Linked DNA regions of Homo sapiens: region 2 is linked to region 1. The links come from fine-mapping of genetic effects on gene expression. A gene starts in region 1. The other region holds a variant in brackets. All regions are shown on one strand. Distances are from middle to middle. Region 1 holds the start of MTA1-DT (MTA1 divergent transcript). Region 2 has its middle 10 kb from the start of MIR8071-2.

The links. PIP is the estimated chance that this variant, and not a neighbour inherited with it, causes the effect.
Region 2: its variant is fine-mapped to the expression of MTA1-DT in esophagus muscle (GTEx, PIP above 0.99).

What each region holds. Positions count from the first base shown.
Region 1 is chr14:105,412,976-105,425,159 of GRCh38, reverse strand. MTA1-DT (MTA1 divergent transcript) reads left to right here and starts at 5,421. Exons shown (of 2, transcript NR_125385.1): 1 at 5,421-6,138; 2 at 6,851-7,579. MTA1 (metastasis associated 1) reads right to left here and starts at 5,333. Exons shown (of 21, transcript NM_004689.4): 1 at 5,097-5,333. The coding sequence starts at 5,124. TEX22 (testis expressed 22) reads right to left here. Exons shown (of 4, transcript NM_001195082.2): 4 at 11,301-12,184. RefSeq lists enhancers at 2,451-3,120, 3,121-3,788, 6,467-7,136 and silencers at 5,240-5,499, 5,590-5,639, 5,670-5,769, 9,805-10,214.
Region 2 is chr14:105,644,044-105,656,227 of GRCh38, reverse strand. It overlaps IGH and IGHG2. Among named protein-coding and RNA genes, the nearest start is that of MIR8071-2, 10 kb to the right of the region's middle. The variant C/G (reference allele first, on the strand shown) is at 4,721.

The DNA of each region.
Region 1 (12,184 bases):
TCTGGCAAGAGCACTCCAAGTTCAGCAGGAGGAGGAAGGAGGCCCTGCAGCCAGTGCTCCCCCAAGCCGCCTCCCGGGTACCTGGCCAGGCACACGGCACCTCCTCTGGCATCCCAGCCTCACCTGCTGACCAGCGTCCAGATGCGCAGCTGGGGACCCACCTCTAGGTAGGATGCCTGCAGGGCCACTGCAGCAGTTTTGACACCCAGAACCCACACACACGGGCGGGAACGGCACTGCCAGGGCGGGTCGGGCGCGAGGGATGTGCTTCATTGGACCATATATTCCAACATCTCTCACTGACAGCTACTTTTTTATTATTCTGAGAGCTTAACGATCAAATTCTCCACTCAGAACAATATGGGGCCAGGCACCGTGGCTCACGCCTGTAATCCCAGCACTTTGGGAGGCCGAGGCGGGTGGATCACTTGAGGTCAGGAGTTCGAGACCAGCCTGGCCTAGATGGTGAAACCCTGTCTCTACTAAAAACACAAAAACTAGCCAGGTGTGGTGGTGCACACCTGTAATCCCAGCTACTCAGGGGGCTGAGGCAGGCAAATCACTAGAACCCAGGAGGCGGAGGTTGCAGTGAGCCGCGATTGTGCCACTGCACTCCAGCCTGGGTGACAGAGTGAGACTGTCTCAAAAACAAAAAAAAAAGCCAGACGCAGTGGCTCACGCCTGTAATCCCAATACTTTGAGAGGCTGAGGCGGGTGGGTCACAAGGTCAGGAGATCGAGACCATACTGGCTAACACAGTGAAACCCCGTCTCTACAAAAAAAAAAAAATTACAAAACATTAGCCAGGCATGGTGGCGGGCGCCTGTAGTCCCAGCTACTTGGGAGGCTGAGGCAGGAGAATGGTGTGAACCCGGGAGGCGGACTTGCAGTGAGCCCAGATTGCGCTACTGCACTCCAGCCTGGGGGACAGAGCGAGACTCCGTCTCAAAAAAACAAAGGTGGAGCAAGCCAGGAGTGCTCAGTGGCTGAGGCAGGAGAAGCTCAGTGGCCCATCCTGCCTGGAGAGTGAGCCAGGGCTGCCAATGGCGCAGTGCTGAGGCCGATCCTCACAGGCCAAGTGGGACAGCCCCATGCCATCCCCTCCAGGACATCACACCTGGGCCCCTGCCACTTCTACCACTCCCGCTCCTGGTGCTCACAGGACGGCCGTGTCTCCAGGGCTCTTCCCTGCCTTCTTGGAAAAGATGGGTGGGACCCCAAAAGTCGGCCCATGGAGCAGCAAGTGCCTAGGGACACGGTGCACTCAGCACTCCAGGGTAGGGCGGCGCTGGCTGCAGCCCTCTACAAATCTGACATTTTTTTTAAGTTTACTTTTTTCCCCACTGGCAAGTATATAGAGCAATAAAGTTTAAACTTCAAAAAAACACTAGAATAAAAATACAAAAGCAACATTTCTAACAGCGCGCCAGAGCGCAGATGATGGCACATGCCAAGCCCAGTGAAGACCAGCAGCACGGACAGGGTGCTTCCGCCCAGGCTGCGCCAGAGACCGGGGCAGAGCCCGCGGCCCTGCAGGGGCAGGGGCTTTCTGGCATCCTTTCAAACTACATTAAAATTTTTTTTTTTTGATACGGAGTCTCACTCTGTCACCCAGCCTCAACTTTTATTAAAATTAAAACAAAAAGGCCGGGCATGAGCTCACGCCTGTAATCCCAGCACTTTCGGAGGCCGAAGCGGGTGGATCACTTGAGGTCAGGAGTTCCAGACCAGCCTGACCAACATGGAGAAACGCCGTCTCTACTAAAAATGTAAAACTTAACCAGGCCTGGTGGCGCCTGGCTAGTCCCAGCTACTTGGGAGGCTGAGGCAGGAAATCGCTTGGGCCGGGGAGGCGGAGGTTGCAGTGAGCCGAAATCGCGCCTCTGCACTCCAGCTTGGGCCACAGAGCAAGACTCCATCTCAAAAAAAAAAAAAAAAAAAAAATTAAACAAAAAAAATCCAAAAGATGGGGTGTTAACCTCTTGCAATGAAAAACAGAAACACCCAAGGCAAAATGGTAATGGCCTGTCCACTGAAAAGCAGAAGCCCCACATGAGCAAGCTGCAGGCGGCTGGCAGGCACCGATTCCTGCTGTCCTGTTTTGGATGCTATCTAACATCTTCATGTTCAACCCAGAGAAGAAACATCCCGCCGTTGCCCTGGGGCCCTCTCATCCCACAGCAGGTTTCAAGCCTTCCCCAGCCCTCGGGATGGACAACCCTTGAGAAGCAGAGGTCAGGGAACCCTGACCCCGCCACCCTTGCCCAGGCCATCCGCTGCCCTCACAGGCACAGACAGAAGGCCTCTGTCCGTGGCCAGGGCACTCCATGGGGAAGAAACAGGCCCTGTTCCCTCCCTGCTCACCACTTCACCCAGCTCAGCTGGCACAAAAATACTGCCACCACACCTTCACCCTGCCTAGCCCAACCTGGCAGGGCCTCGGAGTAGCCTGCCAGCTAAAATACGGGTTGCCCAGATAACTGTGAATGTCAGATAAGAATCTTCTGGGACAAGTATGTCCCATGCCATATTTGGGACATACTTACACTAATAAATTTCTGTTTATCTGAAACTCAAATTTGCCTGGGCGTCCTGTACTTTTCTTAACTAAATTTGGTGCCTCTACACACAAGGTCCCTGGGGTGGGGGGGCACAGGAGCAAGCCCCTTCCCAGGCTGGGTCCCTGCCGGCATCTCCCACAGGCCAGGACTGGCCACCCAGATGGAGCCCGTGCCAGGCAGCCGGCGACAGACGGACAAAGGCTGCTCAGGAGACACTGCACACCTTCCTCTTTCTTGTCTGGGGGCTCAAGAATCCAGACGCCCACCTCCCCGAGCGAGCACCAAGACAGGAAGCCAACCTGCAATGCCCAGCCCACTGCGACCACAGGGCTCTGCCGGGGTCCTGCCGGAACCCAGGGTTCCGGTCCAGAAGCCAGGGATAAATGCCGCTTCTCCTATAGGGACAGTCAGAGTAGAGAGGGGGAGGCCTACAGTCTCACCTGCAGGGAGAGGAAGTCCTCGGGGCGGGCACGTGGGGGGCCTGACAGCTCCGAGCACACCCGGCCACAGTGACCACGGACTGCACACGCAGAAGCAGTCTGGATCCCACGCGTGGCTGTGCTGCCAGCAGACAGCACCCAACCTCCCATGCTCCTCATCACAGGAAAAGAGACCAGCAGCATCTCTGCCAGGCATGGTGGGGCCCCTCCGCCACAGCCTAGGAGTCCAGGCCACCCACCCTCACAGCACTGGAGTGCGTGGGTCAGTGAGGCCCTGGGACGGGCCTGCGGGCACAGGGGGACAGAGGGTTCGGGGAGGGCGGCGCAGCCCCACGAAGGGCTCCTCCCAAGCCTGTGTGGGGCCCAGGGGAGCTGCACCTCCGGGATGGGACAAGGCAGGGTCCTGGCTTTCATCAGCCACAGCACAGCTGCCACAGGGCACAAAAGGACGGCTGAGAGACGAGGTCCTCACCCACACCATGGGGAAACCGAGGCATGGGAAGGTTGGAGGGGGGGCAGCCAGGCTGGCGCCAAGATCACAGGCAGGCAGGCCTGAAGGCCGAGCAATGCAGCCACTAGGAAGGCATGAGTTGGGGTCGGGGTGTCCCCAGCCCTAGAGCCCAAAGCTGCCACCACTCCCCACCCCCAACATGGGTGGGGGCAGGGAGAGCTCTTCTTGGGACCAATCCCAAAACCATGCGCAGTGGGCCCGGCTGGAGCCCAGGCAGCAGGCATCCTCTCTGCCAGGGTGAGAAACTGGGCCCTCATGTCAGGCTGGAAGGGGGGTCTCCAGGTGGGGAGAAAGAACAGGAAGGAACAGGCCCCTCCCTCGAGGGACCCCGCACCCAGGCTGCTCCCTGAGCGTGGGGTGGGCTCAGCGCACCTGGGTCCACACAGGGACCTGGCAAAGCTGTATGAGGCTGTGGGAGGGGCTGCCGCTGGATGGGGTACAGGCCCACCGCCCCTCTGAGAGGACAGGGGAGGCCCAGAGCTGCTGATGCGGACTGACCGCCCATCTCACAGACGGGATGTAGGGGGCTCCCACCGTCCCCAAGGTCACAGGACTGGCCGGCCAGACCACACGGCGTCCAAGGCAGCAGAAGCCACGCTCGAGAGACACAGAGTGTTCTGGGCACTCGGGGTCAGGGGCATGGGGATCAAGCCAGAGCGGGAGTGACCCCAGCTCCCTCCAGCAGCGCAGGCTGCAGGTGGGAAAGGTAATGAGCACCTGCCCGAGAGGGTCACAGGCAGGGAGGGGTCTCAGAGTCCTGGGGAGGGAGGCGCTGATGGAATGATGGAATGCACACGACCCCCCACCTTCCTGTGAAAGACCCCACGGAGTCCCAGGCACACGAAGGAGGGCAAGGCTCAAAGCTGCAGGCCCGGGGGGCCCGAGCAACAGGAGGCTGGGCCCACGGAGGAAGCCCCTGCCCAGGAGGCCCTCCGGCCTCTCCCCAACCCTTGCAAAGCGCCTCCCGAATGGGCTGAGGTGAGCGAGAGGCAGGGAAAAGTTTGGGGGGACTTAGAGGCGTGCTCGGGATGCTCGCTCCCTGCTGAAGACCCCCTGAGGGATCCCTGCTGGGGGAAGCCCCGGGGCCAGGCTGCAGGAGGGCTCTAGGGAGGAACGTGGCCCCTCACCGGGGCTCCCCATCCCCAGAGGGGATGCACCGGAGTCCCAGCACAGGGCCGCGGGCCGGGGGAGACCCCACAGCCCCAAAACTCCTGCTCCCAGACCGGCAGCCGGCGCCTCCCAAGGCCACGTGCTCCCGCTGGGGGCTCCCGGCCCCGGACCCCCGGATGTCCCGCAGGCCCCGCGCCCCCCCGCCACCCCCGCGGCCGCCCCCTCGGCCCCAACAGGTGGGCCGCCCCCCACCCCCGGGCCGCCGAGCCCCGCCCGCCCCCGATGGGGCCGACCCGCGGGGCCATTTTGGGTTGGGGTGAGCACGGCGGGGGGCGGTTCGGGAAGGAGCCGGGGGCCGCGAGGGCGGGCGGGGGGCGCGGGGCCTGCGGGGCAGAGGGGCGGGGGAGGCGGCAGCGGCGGCGGGTGGGGGCTGCGGGCGGGTCGGGGCCGGGCATAAAGGCGGTGCGGCCTTACCTCCGACCCTGTACATGTTGGCGGCCATGTCCGGGCCGGCGGCGGCGGAGGGGCCCGGGGCGGGCGCGGCGCTCGGCGCGGGCGGCCGGGAAAATGGAGGCGCGATGGCGGGGGCGGGGGGCGCCGCAGGCGTTTAAAGGGGCCGCGCTGCTGCCGCCGCCGCCGCCGCCGCCGCCGCCGAGGCCGCCGAGGCCGCGCAGGGACGGGAGGGCCGCGGCGCGGGCGGGAGAGGAAGAGGAGGAGCGGCCGCGGGCGGCGGGGAGGGGCCTCGGGCGCCGCCGCCCACCGCACGGGCCGTTACCGACCCCGCGCCGCCCGCGGCCCGCGCGCCCCTTCCCGGACAGTTCCTCTCGGCGCCCCCGAGTCCTCCCCGCGCGCCGCTTCCCGGGTGGGCCCTTCCACCAGAACCCCCTGGTAGATCCTCCCCTGGTGCCCTGGGGGTAGAGGGGAGATCCTCCACAAGGGCCATTTCCCTGGTGATCCCTCCCTGTGCCCCACAGGTGAGTCCTGCCGTAGCTCTCCAGGGGTTCCTCCTGATGCTGGGGTCCTCCGGCATTCCTCCCTGAGCCCCCCAAGGGCCCTGAAGCTCAGCGGCCCAGCCCTGGCCTCGGGGTCCCCACCCCACACCTCCCTTCCAGGCCTAACCTTTGCCCCCGACACCAGGCAGGGCGTGTCCTTGGCCTTCGCCGCCCAGCCCGCGTGGCATCTCTGGACAGGTGGTCGTGCGCGCCTTGGTGTGGGCAGGCTCCGTAGCCGGCAAAGCCTCCCTGAACCGTGACCTGGTGAGAAGGCCGCAGAGGAGGTGCCTGTGCCCAGAGGCCACCTCCAAAGACCCCACCTGAGGCTGGAACCCAGCGCCTGCTGACCCCGCCAGCCCCAACAGGGCTGGAGTCCAGGAGCGGCCGTGCTCTTTCCGCAGTGAGGCAGCTGCCTTCTCTTCCCACCACCTGTCAGGATGCCTTCCCGTGTGTGCTTGTGCACAGGTCTAAGGAGAGGAGAGTCCAGTGAGTGACCCAGACGCCCCAGCCAGGAAGAGCATGAGGTGCGAAGGGGGCTTCCCAGATGGAGAGAAACAGATGGTCCCAGAGTGGCTTGGAGACAGGTGCAACATCAGTGTTGGGGGAGGTGAGCAAAAGGAGCTGTCTCGGGGTTCCAGGCTGCTGATGTGAGCAGCACCGTGGGTCTCTGTCCTGCCTGCTCAGATGCTGGAGGGAGCTGACATCTACTTGGGACATCCCTCTCTGTAGGACATGGAGCGGAGCGTTCAGGGCTATCAGGAGGGAGCCCCGTGGCCACGGTGCAAGATCTAGGCAGGCGGGACAGACATGGTCAGGATGCTGGGGACACAGCATGGGGAATCCAGCACACAGGACACCATCCAGGTGGGTAGGAAACAGCATGTGCTGGGAGGAAAGCCAGGTGGGGGTCCCAAGGAGAGCGGTGGCCACAATGTCATGGCTGCAGAGCAGACCAGTAAGGAAAGCCCCACCAGGGTTAGCACAGGGCCAGGAACCCGAGCTGCAGGGCGGTGCTGTCTCTGGGGAGAGAGGGCTATGGGTCCCAGGACACATCCTGCGGGCTGGGCTGCAGGGAACAGGAGCTGGCTTGCTGGTGATTGGGAGGGAAGAGCAGCCAGCCAGCGGCCAGGTGCAGGAGAGGGGCAATGACAGACAGGCAGCGTCTCTCCAGAAGGAAGGTGGGGCTGCTGGCCTCCCCTGTCCTACAGCCCCAGCCTACCTCTGTCTCCTCAGCAGGAAAGCAAAGCTGCAGCCTGAGATCTCCTTCCACCAACTCCTGGCATGGCCAGAAAGTTAGCCAGAAACACCAGAAAGTGCCAGGCAGCTAGGAAGCATGGGGAGAGCCCCCTGAAGCTGCGTGTGTAGTGCCTGCTTCCGCTGCCATCCCAGAAATGGACGAGCTTCACCCTGAGAACCCAGCCACACCACTGGGACACATCCTGACAGTGACATGCACACTCTTCCCTGGCCCCAGCCTGGAGAGGAGCCTCCTGAAGACACCAGCCTTTGCTCCTTCTCCCAGTGGGAGTGGAGAGAACTGACTGCTGGAGTGGAGACAGTCAAGGCTGTCCTTCTGAGGGAGCACAGCACAGGGTCTGGTGTCCCAGGGAGGCAATCTGAAATTCAAGCCAGGCCTCCCCAGCGGAGAGGACACACCCCTCACCATGCAGAGTGACGTTTAGTAAACTCTCAAAAGAGAGCACAGAGCCCCACTCCTCCAGCCGACCCATACTCTGCCTCCCCACTCCAGACCAGTGAACAAGGTGGATTGCCCTTAAGCCAGCTCAGAGGCAAAGTCCAAAGACCTCAGGTGAGTCAAACAATAAAAACAAAGAATTAAGAAGAATCCAGCTGGGTGCGGTGGCTCACGCCTGTAATCCCAGCACTTTGGGAGGCTGAGGCGGGAGGATCACGAGCAGGAGGTCGAGACCATCCTGGCTAACACGGTGAAACCCCGTCTCTACTAAAAATAGAAAAAATTAGCTGGGCGTGGTGGCGGGCGCCTGTAGTCCCAGCTACTCCGGAGGCTGAGGCAGAAGAATGGCGTGAACCCAGGAAGCGGAGCTTGCAGTGAGCCGAGATCATGCCACTGCACTCCAGCCTGGGCGACAGAGCGAGACTCCGTCTCCAAAAAAAAAAAAAAAAAAAAAATCCATCCACTCCATCCACTTAGTAGCAGAGCGAATAGACATTCAGGAAAGAGCTTTCACGTCAGAAAGCACTACAGAAGTAGTGGCATATCCCCGGAGGCTGAGGTGGGAGCATTGCTGAGAGGTGGCACGTGACCACATCCATGTCATTCAACAACAGAAAAACAAGTCATCGAGGGTGTGAGGGGCCGGTGAGAAACCCAGTATGGAAGAAAACACAACTGGGCTGAGCGTGGTGGCTCACGCCTGTAATCCCAGCACTTTGGGAGGCCAAGGCAGGAGGATCACCTGAGGTCAGGAGTTCGAGACCAGCCTGGTCAACATAGTGAAACCTCATCTCTACTAAAAATACAAAAAAATTAACTGGGTGTGGTAGCGCGTGCCTGTAGTCCCAGCTACTCCGGAGGCTGAGGCAGGAGAATTGCATGAACCCAGGAGCCGAGACCACACCACTGCACTCCAGCCTGGGGGCGGCACAGTGAGACTCCGTCTCAAAGAAACAAAAATAAAAAATAAATAAATAAATAAATAAATAAATAAGAAAACGCAACCAAAGAAACAGAAGAGGACTCCACAGGACTTCTTTCAGAGCTTCATAGCAGCATGAATTCAACAATCAGGAATTCAAATGCTTGACGACAAAACAGCAGGATGGGAGGAAGAGTTAAGAGCCAAGCAAACCGGAAGCACCAAAATCGCACCGTGGCTGGATCAAGTCATAAACAGCAAAGGGCAGAATATCAAGTTACTTGGAGATGAAAGGCTTGAGATAATTTCAGAGCAAGACAAAGTGATTAACACAATAATTTACTCATTGATTATTTGTTAAACATCTACTTCAAGCTACAGGCCACTCTAGGCCTTGGAGGGTAAGGAAACAGCACCTTTGCCCTCAGAGGGTTTGCAATCTAGCAGGGAGGGGAACATAATAAAGTGTATAAAACCAGGGCTCTGGCTCTGAAGTTCCAGCACTTTGGGCAGGTCACTTGAACCCAGGAGTTTGAGACCAGCCTGGGCAACATAGTGAAAACCCATCTCTACTGAAAAATATAAAAATTAGCGGGGCGTGGTGGTGCATGCCTGTAGTCCCTGCTACTTGAGAGGCTGAGGCAGGAGGATAGCTTAGGCCTGAGAGGCATAGTTCGCAGTGAGCCGAGATAGCACCTCTGCACTGCGGCGTGGGTGGCAGAGCAAGACCCTGTCTAACAACAACAACAAAAACTGATCTTAAGTCCAGCCAGTAAAGATGTAAATCAAAACAAAGACTTTCAGTGGGTCAAATACTGGCGGTGAGCCTTGATCTTCTGGTAAGAAATGCCCTGCCAGGGGATATGGAAATGTCAGTGCCAGTTCCTCACCATTCACAGGCAGAAGTCAGCCGGTGCCGCCTCAGCCGAACCGTGCTTTGCTGCTGTAAACCAAACACACTCATCTCTTGATGTTTTTGTAATTTCTAAAAATAATCGTAGAAGACTTTTTTTTTTTTTTTTTTGGAGACAGGGTCTCACTCTGTCACCCAGGCTCAAGTGCAGTGGGCCTATCTCGGCTCACTGCAGCCTCGACTTCCTGAGCTCAAGCGATCCTCCCACCTCAGCCTCCCAAGTAGCTGGGACTACAGGAGAGCACCACCACGCCCGGCTGATTTTTGTATCTTCAGTATGGATGGAGCTTCCCTTTGTTGCCCAGGCTGTTCTCCAACTCCTGAGCTCAAGCGATCTGCCTGCCTTGGCTTCCCAAAGTGCCGGGATTACAGGCCTGAGCCACGGCGCCCGGCCATCGTAAGGAGACTTTTAAACTTGAGGTGAAGAAGCATTCATCTGCTTTTAGCAATTTTTTTCTTTAAATATTTAAAAGTCTATAAGTAGCAACTCGACACGTATTTCTGTATTTCCATTACATCCTTTTATCTCCCCATATACATTTAGAAATATCTGGGATAACCTTTAGGTAATGTTAACAGCTGTTATTCCAGGGAGGACACTGGGCGCGTTTTTAAAGCTGTATTCGTTGCTGTATTAATAGCAAGCGGTGTTTCTGCAAAGCCAAGGAAGGCGTTTCTCCAGCGGGGCCGCGTCGGGCATTGTCTGGTGCGCCGGGGAAGGCCGCGAACTACATCTCCCAGGCGCCCCGCGCCCCGTTCCGCGCCCCGCGCCCCCGCCCGCGCGGCTCCTGCTGTGGTGCCGGAGCGTCCTCGGCTCGGTCCGGAGCCAGCCGGAGTCACAATTCGAATCGGGCGTGGGAAGCCCGGGGGACCACGCGGCCAACCCTGGGCGGACCTGCGCGCCGGAGACCGCGTCCCCGGGAGCCCCCAAACGCTACCCCGCGCGGCCGCCCGTGGCGCTGCGGAGGCCTGCGGGTGGGGAGGCGCAGTGGCGGCCGGGGCGACGGCCTAAGCACCACACTACTGCTGCGAGACTTCGGGGGATCCCCACTCCCCTCCCAGGATCCTTCCCACTCCCCTCCCAGGATCCTTCCCACTCCCCTCCCAGGATCCTTCCCACTCCCCTCCCAGGATCCTTCCCACTCCCCTCCCAGGATCCTTCCCACTCCCGAGACTGCTTCTTCTGTCCCCTTGATTCCACGCGCCTCAGAGACCCTCCCTCTGCCGTCCCGCGAAGAGCGCGCCCCTCCCCTTGCAAGGTGGGCTTCACATGCGCTCCCGCCGCACGCACCCTCCTCTGCCCCCGGGTTTCCTGCCGGGCCCTCATGGTTTGGGGCTGCCCATGCATTGCGGGATCCTGAGCAGCACAGCGCCGCCGCCTCTGCCCACCAGGTGCCGGCAGCCCCTGTGGAAGGCAGAATGCCCCTCTCACAGATACTTGTGTACAAATCCCCAGAACCTTGGAGCAGGCTGGGTTAACTGGGTTAAGTGGCAGGTTAGGAAGGGGGCTAACCAGTTCACCCGAAAGCAGGCAGGCGACCCTGGATCTTCCGGGTGGGCCCAGCGTAGCCACAAGTGTGTTTCAGGGTGCAGGAGGGAGGCAATGGAGAGGTGGGCAGAGAAGGGCAGGGCAGAGAGGGGCTCGGCCGCTCCGAAGGAGGCCACAACTACCAGCCAAGGAATGCAGGTGGCTTCTTGAGGCTAGAAAAAGGGAAACAGGGTCTCCCCTGGCACCTCCAGAAGGAACAGAACTCTGCCAACCCCTCATTCTGAGCCCAAAGATACCCATTTTGAACTTCTACAAAACTTAGCTAATACATTTGTGTTGTTTTAAAACACTCAAAGCCAGGCACCAGTGGAACACTCATGTAACCCCAGCTACTCAGGAGGCCGAGGCAAGAGGATTGCTTGGGTCAAGGAGTTCAAGACCAGCCTGAGCAACATACCAAGACTGTTTCTCTATAAAAACTTACAAAAAAAAAAATAAAGGCCGGGTGTGGTGGGATGCACCTGCAGTCCCAGCTACCCAGGAGGCCAAAGTCGGGGGATCACTTGAGTCCAATAGTTCAAGACCAGCCTGGGCAACATAGCAAGCCTGCCCCCCGCTCCGCCCCAACCACCAAAAAAAGAAAAAAGAAAAAGAAACCAAACCTACTGAATTTGTGGCAATTTTTATGGCAGCTACAGAAAACTAGTACACAAATCCCAGTTGTGACAACCTAAGCGGTCTCCAGGCACTGCCCCTGTCCCGGCACCACCTCTGTTGGAGAGGCCTGTGCCTCTCAGTGCCAATACCCTGCTGCCAGCTGGCCCTGTGGCCACCTTACCCACCAGGAGACTGGCTCTGGGCCTCAGCCTGAAGGAGGCCAGGGTTTTGTCTCTGCTGCCACCATGGGGGAGGTGCTCTGTAGGGAGACCTCATGGAGCAGAGAGGGCAACCATCCCAGCATCACCAGCATCCTGGACCACCACGCTCTGACTGCAGCCTCAGGAGACACTCAAACGAGAGCAGGAGAGCTGGCAGGATGAGCCCAGCCAACCCCCAAGTCACAGAACAACGAGTGGTTCTTTAAAGCCACTCAGCAACAGAGGACTGCCCAGCTCATCACCCCCATGGCAACTGCTTACCTGTCAGCTCCGCTCTGCCCTGTTTACACCTGGGGATGCCTGCCTGGCATGCAGCTGGGCCCATAGGATCCCATTCCCCACATCATCATCAGGGGCCTCAGAGGGGGTGGGTCATGACCCAAAACTCCCCACACCCTTAAGGACAGTGCCCTGCCCAAAACTCCCCACACCCTTAAGGACACCTGCCCTAGCCCCTGGAGGATCTGCCCTCCATCCACCTACCCTAGGGCTCCTGAGAAATGCAGAGGATCCCTAGGGTGCACCAAATGACATTCAGAGGACTTGGGAGAGAAGGGGAGCACCTGGCTGTGTAATCTTGGAAGGCTTCCTGAAGGAGGAGGGAACTTCACTGAGTCTTACAGTAAGAAGGGGAGACAGGCAGGTGCAGAGGATTCAACTCGGGCCAGGGAT
Region 2 (12,184 bases), 230 kb before region 1:
ATATCAATCAATACATGTAAAGTATACATTGGTTTGGTTTGGTTTGGAAAAGCAGGACAATTCAAAGTGGGGAATTCCAAATCATAGGTGGATTTGAAGATTTTCTGATTGGCAATTGGCTGAAAAAGTTAAATTATCTAAAAAGTTGAAGTCAGCAAAAAGCAATGCTTAAGATAAGGGGGTTGTGGAAGCCAAGTTTCTTGTTATGTAGATGAAGCCTCCACGTTCCAGAGAGAAGAGATGGTCAATGTCTCTTATCAGAACCTAAAAGGTGCCAGACTCTTGGATAAATCTCTCCTGAATCAGGAAGAGACCTGGAAAGGGAAAAAGATTCTCAACAGAATATACATTTCCTCCACAAGAGACGGCTTTGCAGGGCCCTTCCAAAATGTGTCAGAGAAATATATTCTGGCATAAAATACTTTAATTTCCTTCCATGCCTGCCACCTGTCATGTGATGCTATACCAGAATCAGGTTGGGATTTGATATCTTATTGCTACAAAGAGTCTGCTTTGTCAGTCTTAAGCTCCCTGTTTTAATGTTAACACTGGTCAGCTGAGCCTAAGCTCCAACAGGGAGAGGGTATAGTGAGGGAGTCCAAACCACCCTCCCCTTCCTGTCATGGCCTGAACTGGTTTTCCAGGTTTCTTTGGAATCCCCTTGGATTAGCATTTTATTTTGTCGTTTACACCTTTTAAATATAAGTTCCAACTTTAAGTCATTTCTTTGCTCCCATATCTTACCATAGACTGTTAGAAGCAACCAGGTCACACCTTAGAAACATCTGCTTAGAAATGTCTTCCACAGATGCCCTAAGTCATCACTCTTAAGGTCAACCTTCCACAGATCCCTAGGGCATGAACACAATGCAGCCAAGTTGTTTCTTAGGATTTAACAAGCGTGACCTTTACACCAGTTCCCAATAAGTTTCTCATTTCCATCTGAGATTTCATCAGCCTGGCTTTCACAGTCCATATGTCTATCAGCATTTTGGTGACAACCATTTAATAGTCTCTAAGAAATTCCAAACTTTCCCTCATCTTCCTGTCTTCTTCTGAGTCCTCCAAATTCTTCTAACCTCTCTGCCTGTTACCTGATTCCAAAGCTGCTTCCACATTTTCAGGTATCCTTATAGCAATGTTCCACTCCTCAATACCAATGTTCTGAGTTAGTCTATTTGTGTTACTAGAAAAAAAAAAAAAACATGAATCTGGTAATTTATAAAGAAAAGAGGTTTGCACCAGGCACTGTGGCAAGGAAGGGAGGATTAACTAGCTCACAGTTCTGCAGCCATTCCGGAAACACGGCCCTGGCATCTGCTTCTGGCGAGGCCTCAGGGAGATTGCAATCACGGCAGAAGGCGAAGGGGGAGCAGGCATGTCACATGGCAAGAGGGAGCAAGAGAAGAGAAGTGGCACGTCCTAGACTTTTAAACAACCAGCTGTCACAGGGACTAACTGAGGGAGAACTCACTCATCACCTGGGAGATGGTGCTAGGCCATTCATGAGGGGTCCAGCCCCATGATCTAATCACCTCCCACCAGGCCCACCTCCAACACTGGGAATCACATCTCAACATGAAATTTGGAGAGACACACATCCAAACTATTGCACCACAGGAAGCTGGAAGAGGTGGACGGTCCTCCCCTGGAGCACTCAGAGACAGCCACCAACACCTTGATCTCAGATTCCTGACTCCCAGAACTCTGAAAAAATTTTTGTTGTTTTAAGCCACATTTGTGATATTTTGTTACGGCAGCCACAGCACGGATATAGCTGGTAACAGAGTTCTTTAGCCTCCAAAATACAAGCCTGGGGTAAATAACTATTGAATTTGGCCACATGGAAATCAGGAAGAATGTAATAAGCATCATCGATGGACGGGATGACCTGGGAGATCGTGGCAAGTTTAAAGCTAATTGGAAGTTGGCAACCAAAAAATCCTGTCTTGCAAATTGCCAGGAAATTGCCAAGAAAACTTTTAGAAAACATGGTTAAAGATGGAGAAACCTGGATGAATCCCTGGTTTCTGAAGAGGTGCTTAGGCATTGAAGTGAGACTGATGAGACTTCACACTGTACCTTCAGAAGGGCAGACACTCACGAGATCATCAACCACGGCTCCCTCGCTGGGAGGCAGACACAGAGCTGGAGGCGGCGGCCACAAACTAGGTGGGCAGAGAGGCGTCAGCATCGGGACTTGCGGGAGGCCCTGGGAAGGAACAGGCAGCGGTGGGGCCTGGACAGCCCTGGGGAAAGGAAGTTACTTGGAGGAGACCAGGGGCTTGCATTTGGGCCAAAACCAAGGACAAGAGATCAGCTGGTCCCAGGGAACTCTGGAGCCCAGCACCCCACCACGGGTGCAGGGTCCTGACAACCCGAGAGGGCTGTGGGCACCGGGCACCAGCCTGTGGGGATTCTGAAGGCTGCTGCCCAGCCACACGTCCCGGTTCTGAACAAAGGGTTCAAGAGACACCTGCAAACCTACCTTTCTGAGAGCAGCCTCTTAGCCTCAGCTGGTATTGGCCTTTGGTCACCCCACATGCCCCGACAGTGGGGCCTGGCCTCAGAAAGGGGCCCCTCCATTTGTACTTTCTATCTGATCCTTGACACAGTGCTAACACCAAAGACCAAACCCGAATCTTGGTTCACATACTCTGCAAAGAAATGACTAAGACTAGTTCTTCCGGAGGTCAGTTTTAGAACGTTTATTCTGACTTAATTCTGCCTTATCTCTGTGCACCAAGAAAACTATCTGCACATCTGTAGTAAAATGTGAAGGTACCTTCATTTTGTTTGTATACTAAACTTTTAAGAAATACCTCACTTTTTAAAACTTGGTTTTGTGTTTTGTATGCTTATAATATTTTCCATAATAGATCATTTTAATGATGAACTCTGAGTCTTCTGACAGAATGCAGATCAATGGATTCCTAGCCATCAGGGAGGCGTTGATTGCAAAGGGGCCTGGTGGAATTTTTGGAGAGATTCTACATCTTCTTGCAACTGTTCATCTGGATTACGGTGGTGGTTGCATGACTGTGCATTTGTTGAAACTTACATGTCACAGGATGGATTATACTGAATGTAAACTACACTTGAGTAAATATGACTTTTAAAACTTTAAAAAGTTGGGGGATGGTTCACTGCCCCGGCTCGAAGCCCCCTGGCCACGCTGCCTGGCCAGCCCACCCCCATCCCTGCCAGCGCTTGCCTCCAGCGTCCCAACAGCCTCCTGACCCCCTGGGCTGCTCTAAACCCTCAGGAGCGCAGCCATCCGGGATCAGCTGGATGGAGATGGGGAGCCCGAGACTCGTGCCACACCACGTCCTCCCGCCCACACCAGCCACACGCAGACGTCAAAGCAGCACTGTCCTCGCACGCACTGCTCCCACCCACCCTGGCACGGCCATTCCAGGCCTGGGGCAGGAAGGCAGATGCTCCCCCTGCCCCCAGACACAAGCATTCCTGCACACACCCCCAGCACACACACGCACTCCCATGCGCACACTGACACACACAGGTGTGTGCAGCTGAGACACAGCCCGTTCCCAGGAAGCCCAGCCCCCATCACTGAGGGAAAGGGGCAGCACCGTAGGGCCACAGGAGTGGCAGCTGGACACAGAGCCAGGAGCTGGTGAAGGCCCAGGCCACTGAGGCGGGCTGCCGGCATGGCTGGGCGTGAAGGCCAGAAGAGGGCAGGAGGGGCTGGGGGCACTATGCCTATTGGGCCTAGGTGGGCACACGCCGGGCAGGAGAGGAACAGCCCAGCCCCTCAGACAGGAAGGGGTGGGGGCAGGGGCCATTTGTGGAGGCCAGGGCAGGGCCAGCACCCCAAGGAAAAGCAGAGCAGGGTGAGAACGGACATGGGGCTCAGAGCTGAGCAGGCCTGCTGGGCCCCAGGAGGGAGACACAGATGACCGGAGATCTCAAGGCTGGCAGAGGCCAGAGATGGAGCCCCAGCTGGGAAGCCATCCTCCTTCCTGGGGGCCCACGCTGCCCGGCCCCTCCAGCCCAGCAAGCTTGGGGCATTGGATAGAACCGGGAGAGAGCCGACCAGGCACTGAGGCCCCTGCCCCAAATGCCCACAGCCTGGGGAAAATGAGCAGGTACATGGGAGGGGCAAGTGGAGCCCCAGGCACACCCACACAGTGCACACGGCCTCACCTGGGCCGGAGGGGGCAGGAGGCTCGCCACCCCGCTGTGGTTTCTCTCCTAATCTCACCCTGGGTTTCTCTCACACTTGATGCAGATGATGTTTCTCTGACATTGTGGACTAAGAGTTGGTGCTGGAAGGGGTTAGCCATCTTGGAGATGTTGCTATGGGATGCAGGGATTTTGCGTGTGAGAAGGACATGATTATGGGGGGAACGGAGGGCAAACTGTCATGGGTTAAAATGTGTCCCCTATAAATTCATGTGTTGAAGTCCTAACCCCCAGGACCGCAGAATGTGACCTTGTCTGGAAACAGTCTTTGCAGCTGCAATCAAGTTCAGATGAGGTCACCCTGGAGTAGGGCAAGCCTCTGATCCAATATGACTGCTGTCCTCATGAAAAGGGGGAATCTGGGCACAGACAGCACGTGGGGAGAACGCCCTGTGAAGATGGTGCTGCTTCCATAAGCCAAGAGCACCAGAGACGGCCGGCAAAGCCCAGCAGCAAGGAGAGAGCCTGGGACAGAGTCTCCCATGACACAGAGGAGCCAGCCCCACCGAGGCCT[C/G]CATCCCAGATGCCCGGCCTCCAGAACCAGGACGGAATAAACGTCTGTTGTTTAAGCCACGCAGTCTGGGGTGCAGTGTTGCCAGGGCCACAGTTAACGGATACGAGTGTTGTCCTGAGCTGCCAGCCCCACAGGCTGCACGAGGCCTCCCTGCCCCAGCCCAGTGCAGACTCCCCAGCCCCCTGGGTGTGCCATGGGCAGTGGGGGGCCCCTCACTCCGTCCTCCCCCAGCCTGGGAGGTTGAGCCCATTATGAGCTCCATGGGGTGAAGCTGGAACGAGAGGCTGGGAGCCGACTGGGAGCCTGCGGCTGGAGGATGGATTTCCCCAGGGACCCACACGTGCACCTCCACCTGTCTCCTGGACATTCTCTCTGAGGGCAGGGCTGGTGCCAGCTCAGGGATCCAGCAGGGTCACAAGGGCAGGCCGGGTCCTTGTGGAGAGCACATTTAGTGGGAGGGACATGATTTCCCTTCAAAGTGCCCATTCTGGACGCTTCCCGTTCCATGCTGGACGCTTCCTCTTCCACGCTGGATGCTTCCTGTTCCACGCTGGATGCTTCCTGTTCCACGCTGGATGTTTCCTGTTACACTCTGGATGCTTCCTGTTCCACACTGGATGCTTCCTGTTCCATCCTGGATGCTTCCTGTTCCATGCTGGACATTTCCTGTTCCACTCTGGATGCTCCCTGTTCCATGCTGGATGCTTCCTGTTCCATGCTGGATGCTTCCTGTTCCATGCTGGACATTTCCTGTTCCACTCTGCATGCTTCCTGTTCCACTCTGGATGCTTCCTGTTCCACACTGGACGCTTCCTGCTCCACGCTGGACGCTTCCTGTTCCATGCTGGATGCTTCCCGTTACATTCTGGATGCTTCCCGTTCCATGCTGGACGCTTCCTGTTCCACGCTGGACGTTTCTTGTTCCACTCTGGATGCTTCCTGTTCCACGCTGGATGCTTCCTTTTCCACGCTGGACACTTCCTGTTCCGCGCTGGACACTTCCTGCTCCACACTGGACGCTTCCTGCTCCAGGCTGGACGCTTCCTGTTCCATGCTGGATGCTTCCTGTTACATTCTGGATGCTTCCCGTTCCATGCTGGACGCTTCCTGTTCCACGCTGGACGTTTCTTGTTCCACTCTGGATGCTTCCTGTTCCACGCTGGACGCTTCCCATTCCACTCTGGATGCTTCCTGTTCCATGCTGGACATTTCTTGTTCCACTCTGGATGCTTCCTGTTCCATGCTGGATGCTTCCTGTTCCATGCTGGATGCTTCCTGTTCCATGCTGGACGTTTCTTGTTCCACTCTGGATGCTTCCTGTTACATGCTGGATGCTTCCTGTTCCATGCTGGACGTTTCTTGTTCCACTCTGGATGCTTCCTGTTCCATGCTGGATGCTTCCTGTTACATTCTGGATGCTTCCTGTTCCATGCTGGACATTTCCTGTTCCACTCTGGATGCTTCCTGTTACATTCTTGATGCTTCCTGTTCCATGCTGGACATTTCCTGTTCCACTCTGGATGCTTCCTGTTACATTCTGGATGCTTCCTGTTCCATGCTGGACATTTCCTGTTCCACTCTGGATGCTTCCTGTTACATTCTGGATGCTTCCTGTTCCATGCTGGACATTTCCTGTTCCACTCTGGATGCTTCCTGTTACATTCTTGATGCTTCCTGTTCCATGCTGGACATTTCCTGTTCCACTCTGGATGCTTCCTGTTACATTCTGGATGCTTCCTGTTCCACTCTGGACGCTTCCCATTCCACTCTGGATGCTTCCTTTTCCATGCTGGACCTTTCTTGTTCCACTCTGGATGCTTCCTGTTCCATGCTGGATGCTTCCTTTTCCATTCCGGACACTTCCTATTCCATTCTGGACACTTCCTGTGCGACACCTCCTCGGGCTTTTGGTCTGCCCAGTCCCTCTGGCCTCATACCATCCCCCCTTACCTCCCACTTCCACGTTCGTCCTTCCTCAGCTCCTCCCTCTCTCTAGAGCTTCGGCCTGGCAAGGTCCCTCCTGATCTCAGTCCAGGCTCCCCCAGCACAGGTAGGAGACTTGCACCTGCCCTTGGACCTCCCCACCCTGCATGATGCCAGCATCCCCCAGGCCCCAGGGAGGCCCCATTTCTCTCTCTGCTTGTAGTCCAGTGGCCCTGGAGTGCCACTGCAACTCGGGTGTGCCCCTCGCCTCTGAGGAAGCTAAGTGCCCTAAGCTAAGCAGAGGCCATCCCCTCTGCTCAGCCCCAGGGCCCTGCCCCCTACCCCTTCCCCTCACCTGCACCACAGGCTCTGGCCAACTCTGCCCAGGCTCTGAATGGGCCCCTCTGGCTCCCCTCTGCTGCTACACTGCCCTGCACCACCTCCACTCAGCTTCAGTGTGTTCATCCACCTGTCCCACGTCCCCTCGGCCCCCAGGAGCACAGCTGGTGGCCCTGGCTCCTGGCAGCCCATCTTGTTCCTTCTGGAGCACCAGCCTCAGAAGCCTTCCTGTGCAGGGTCCACTCGGCCAGCCCTGGGACCCTCCTGGTCTCAAGCACACACATTCTCCCTGCAGCCAGACCTGCCCCTGCCTGTGAGCTCAGACCTGAGCCTTGGAACGCCTTCCCTTCTCCATCCCAGCTCGCCTTTGCCAGCTGCTCAGCGGGATGAACTCACACTCCCCTCCCTGCACCATGAGTGAGAGCCAGCTGGAGAGACGCCCAGGCCAAAGCAGCCACCAGGGCCCAGTGGGGGTCAGAAGCTTCAGGTGAGAGGCCCAGGTATTGAGAGGCTGAGACCACGGGCAGAATGGTCATAATCACTGCCAGTATCAGTCCAGCCCCAGGGACTCAGAGACAGAGAAAAGAGCAGTGAACAAGGTCCGGGCTCCCCACCTTCTCCCACGAGTATGGGGGCAGCCACCACCCCCATCCCCACACACCCATGAGGCAGCCTCGGCTGTGTCTGGACTCCCCCTTACCCTGTGACACAGAAACCACCAGAAGAAAAGGGAACTTCAGGAAGTAAGCGGTGCCGCCGGTTTCAATCCTGTTCTTAGTCTTTGCAGCGTGGAGTTCACACCCCTGGGGACCTGAGGGCCGAGCTGTGATTTCCTAGGAAGACAAATAGCAGCTGACGGCGTGGGCAAGTCTGCCCACATGTACCGCGCCAAAACAGGAAGGGCTGAGACCCCCACCTCGGTGAGTAGGGTCAGCACAGGGCAAGGGCACAGGCTCGGGAGGAGAAGGACAGAGCCTGGGTGCAGCCGTGGGCGCTCCTGGACCTCAGCTGCTGAACAGGCTACAAGAGGCTGGGGAGACGTGGGGGCAAGGCCAGCCCCACATGGAGACCCAAGCGGAGCCAGCACGGGGGAGGTGGGCAGCCTTCAGGCACCAACGCCCACCCAGTGCAAGATGACGGGGACCGTGGGCAGGGGCTTCCAAGCCAACAGGGCAGGACACACCAGAGGCTGACTGAGGCCTCCATGACGACCAGGCTGGGAGCACGAGGAACCTGACGGGATGCGGCAGAGCCGGCCGTGGGGTGATGCCAGCATGGGCAGGACCCACCTGAGCTGAGGAGGCAGTAGAACGAGGGAGGAGGAGAGGCCCCAGGTGAACGGAGGGGCTTGTCCAGGCCAGCAGCATCACTGGAGCCCAGGGCAGGGTCAGCAGTGCTGGCCGTGGGGCCCTCTCTCAGCCAGGACCAAGGACAGCAGGTGAGCCGGGAGCAGAGCAGGGAGGGTGAGTGTGGCAGCAGGACAGGAGGGTGGAAGCCAAGGAGCCCAGAGGCAGAGGCAGGGACAGGGGAGGCACAGGGGCTAGGCTCAGAGCCACCTGATGGCGCTGGGGCACCTGCTGGCGGGGAGCAGGGCTGTGGTCAGCAGCGGAGTGGAGGGGAGAGCTGTGCTGAGTGCACAGATGGGAGGAGGGAAGAGTCCAGGGAGGCCCAGAAAGGCCCAGAGTGCAGCAGGCCTGGGGCGAGGGGAGGGGTGAGGCTCCGTGCGTTCAGGGAGCTGACCCAGCAGAGCAGAGGCCACTGAGGAGCTGAGGTTCTGGAGAGGCTTCCAGAGCAGGAGCAGTGCAGGGACGGGAGGATCTGGGAGCTCACCCAGGAGGGGCACATGGGCAAGGGCAAGGGGCTCTGTTGGGGAGACCTGACTGGACACTGGGGCTGCTCCACAGCATAGGGAACAAGCCAAGTGCTGCAAAAACAAAAATGAGGCCAGAAAAACAGCCCAAACCTGGACAGAGGGTGCCAGGACAGGCAGGGGGGCAACAGTGACCTGAGTGACATTGCTGCCCGGGTTGAGGGAGGGCAGAGTGAGCAGGGGGCAGGCATTGGAGTTCAGGGTACCAGGACCGAGCAGCCACAGGTGAGCAGGGCAGGTGGGGGCAGAAGGAGCAGGGGGCACCTCCTGGAGCTCAGCAGACCAGGGCAGAGCAACTGAAGGTGAACAAGGGCAGGTGGGAGGCAGGATGAGCAGGGGGAAGACCCTGGAGCTCAGGGGACCAGGGCAGAGCAGCCTCAGGTGCCTCAGGTGAGCAGGGGCTGGTGGGTGGCAGGACGAGTAGGGGACAGCTCCTGGAGCTCAGGGGACCAGGACAGAGCATCAAGAGCTGAGCATGGCTAGTGGGAGGTGGGCGAACAGGGTGCAGCCCCTGGAACTCGGGACCAGGGCAGAGCAGCGGCAGGTGAGCACGGGCTGGTGGGAGGCAGGAGGAACAGGGGGCAGCTCTGGGACTTCAGGGGACCAGGGGAGGGCATCTGAAGGTGAACAGGGGCTGGTGGGGGCAGGAAGAGCAGGGGGAAGCCCCTGGAGCTCAGGGGACCAGGGCAGAGCAGCCACAGGTGAGCAGGGGCTGGTAGGAAGCAGGAGGAGCAGGGGACAGCCCCTGGAGCTCAGAGCACCAGGGCAGAGCACCCTCAGGTAAGCAGGGGCAGGTAGGAGGCAGGACGAGCAGGGGACAGCCCCTGGAGCTCAGGGGACAGAGGAGAGCATCAGAAGGTGAGCAGGACTGAGGCTTAGCCTCAGGGAATCAGAGCAGAGCAGCCACAGGTGAGCAGGGCCGGTGGGAGGCAGGACGAGCAGGGGACAGGCACTAGAGCTCAGGGCAAGGCAACCACAGGTGAGCAGGGCCGGTGGGAGGCATCACTCAGCTCCTAGATTTTGGCAGGAGCTGGGTAGTTGCTGGCAGCAGACAGCTGAGGGCTGGTGAAAGTGCAGTGCAGCCTCCTGGTGCCAGGAAGGGAGTGTGAGCCCATCCCACTGAGCAGTTGGCAAGGGTGAGCTGGGATGGAGAAGGGAAGGCATTCCAGGGCTCGGGGCTGAGCTCTCAGGCAGGGGCAGGTGTGGCTGCAGGGGGAATGTGTGCTTGAGACCAGGAGGGTCCCAGGGCTGGCCCCAGCGGACCCTAGGCAGGAAGGCCTCTGAGGCTGGCGCCCCAGAAGGAGCAAGATGGGCTGCCAGGAGCCAGGGCCACCAGCACAATGAAGCTGAGTGGAGGTGGTGCAGGGCAGTGTAGCAGCAGAGGGCTGCCAGAGGGGCCCATTCAGGGCCTGGGCAGAGTCAGCCAGAGCCTGTGGTGCAGGTGAGGGGAAGGGGTGGTGAGCGGGGCCCTGGGGCTGAGCAGAGGGGATGGCCTGGCTGAGGGCAGGGCACTTAGCCTCCTCAGAGGTCAGGGGCACACCCCACCTGCAGTGGGACTCCAGGGCCACTGGGCCAGCGGCAGAGAGAAATGGGGCCTCCCTGTGGCCTGGGGGTCCTGGCACCACGCAGGGTGGGGAGGGCCAAGGGCAGGTGCAAGGCTCCTACCTGTGCTGGGGGGCCTGGGTTGAGCCCAGCAGGGACCTTGCCGGGGGAAGCTCTGGAGAGAGGGAGGAGGTGGGCTGGTGGCCGAGAAGGCCAGGCCAGGGCTGGGAGGGTGAGGTTGTGGTGACTGAGCCTCCAGAAGTAATGCAGGACACTGGGAGGCAGGGGGCATCCAGGCACTCAGGGCCCTGACCTGGGCTGCTGCACACTGGGGCTAAGGGGAAAGGAGGGGAGAGGCTGAGGAGGAGGCTCCAGGAGGCTATTCCAAGGCAGGGGGTTCCGGGGCCCTGGGGCTGAAGGGCGCCGACCCTATGCAGTGTCTGGCCCCTCTGCTGCACAGAAGAAAAGGGCCTTGGAGGGCAGAGGGCAGGCTATGACCAGGGCCCTGGGCAAGTCAGGCCCACTCACTAGCGGAGGGCCACGCTGGGGCGGCAGGGTCAGGAGCTTCAGGGGACTCGGGGGACCCACGAGAAGCCATCTGAGAACAGTGTCCACTGGTCAAGCCAGGCACCCATAAAAGGCTGGAGTGGGGCCAATGGGCATGAGCCGTCCCTGAGGTGGCACCGATGGCCAGAGCTGAGGCCAAGCTAGAGGCCCTGGACTGTGCTGACTCCCGGCAGGCACAGAGCGCTGACCTGGCTGCCGAGCCCCGCCTCCTAGGCTGCAGGGGTGCCTGCAGAAGGGCACCACAGGGCCACCGGTCCTGCAAGCTTTCTGGGGCAGGCCGGGCCTGACTTTGGCTTTGGGGCAGGGAGGGGGCTAAGGTGACGCAGGTGGCGCCAGCCAGGTGCACACCCAATGCCCGTGAGCCCAGACACTGGACCCTGCCTGGACCCTCGCAGATAGACAAGAACCGAGGGGCCTCTGCGCCCTGGGCCCAGCTCTGTCCCACACCGCGGTCACATGGCACCACCTCTCTTGCAGCCTCCACCAAGGGCCCATCGGTCTTCCCCCTGGCGCCCTGCTCCAGGAGCACCTCCGAGAGCACAGCGGCCCTGGGCTGCCTGGTCAAGGACTACTTCCCCGAACCGGTGACGGTGTCGTGGAACTCAGGCGCTCTGACCAGCGGCGTGCACACCTTCCCGGCTGTCCTACAGTCCTCAGGACTCTACTCCCTCAGCAGCGTGGTGACCGTGCCCTCCAGCAACTTCGGCACCCAGACCTACACCTGCAACGTAGATCACAAGCCCAGCAACACCAAGGTGGACAAGACAGTTGGTGAGAGGCCAGCTCAGGGAGGGAGGGTGTCTGCTGGAAGCCAGGCTCAGCCCTCCTGCCTGGACGCACCCCGGCTGTGCAGCCCCAGCCCAGGGCAGCAAGGCAGGCCCCATCTGTCTCCTCACCCGGAGGCCTCTGCCCGCCCCACTCATGCTCAGGGAGAGGGTCTTCTGGCTTTTTCCACCAGGCTCCAGGCAGGCACAGGCTGGGTGCCCCTACCCCAGGCCCTTCACACACAGGGGCAGGTGCTTGGCTCAGACCTGCCAAAAGCCATATCCGGGAGGACCCTGCCCCTGACCTAAGCCGACCCCAAAGGCCAAACTGTCCACTCCCTCAGCTCGGACACCTTCTCTCCTCCCAGATCCGAGTAACTCCCAATCTTCTCTCTGCAGAGCGCAAATGTTGTGTCGAGTGCCCACCGTGCCCAGGTAAGCCAGCCCAGGCCTCGCCCT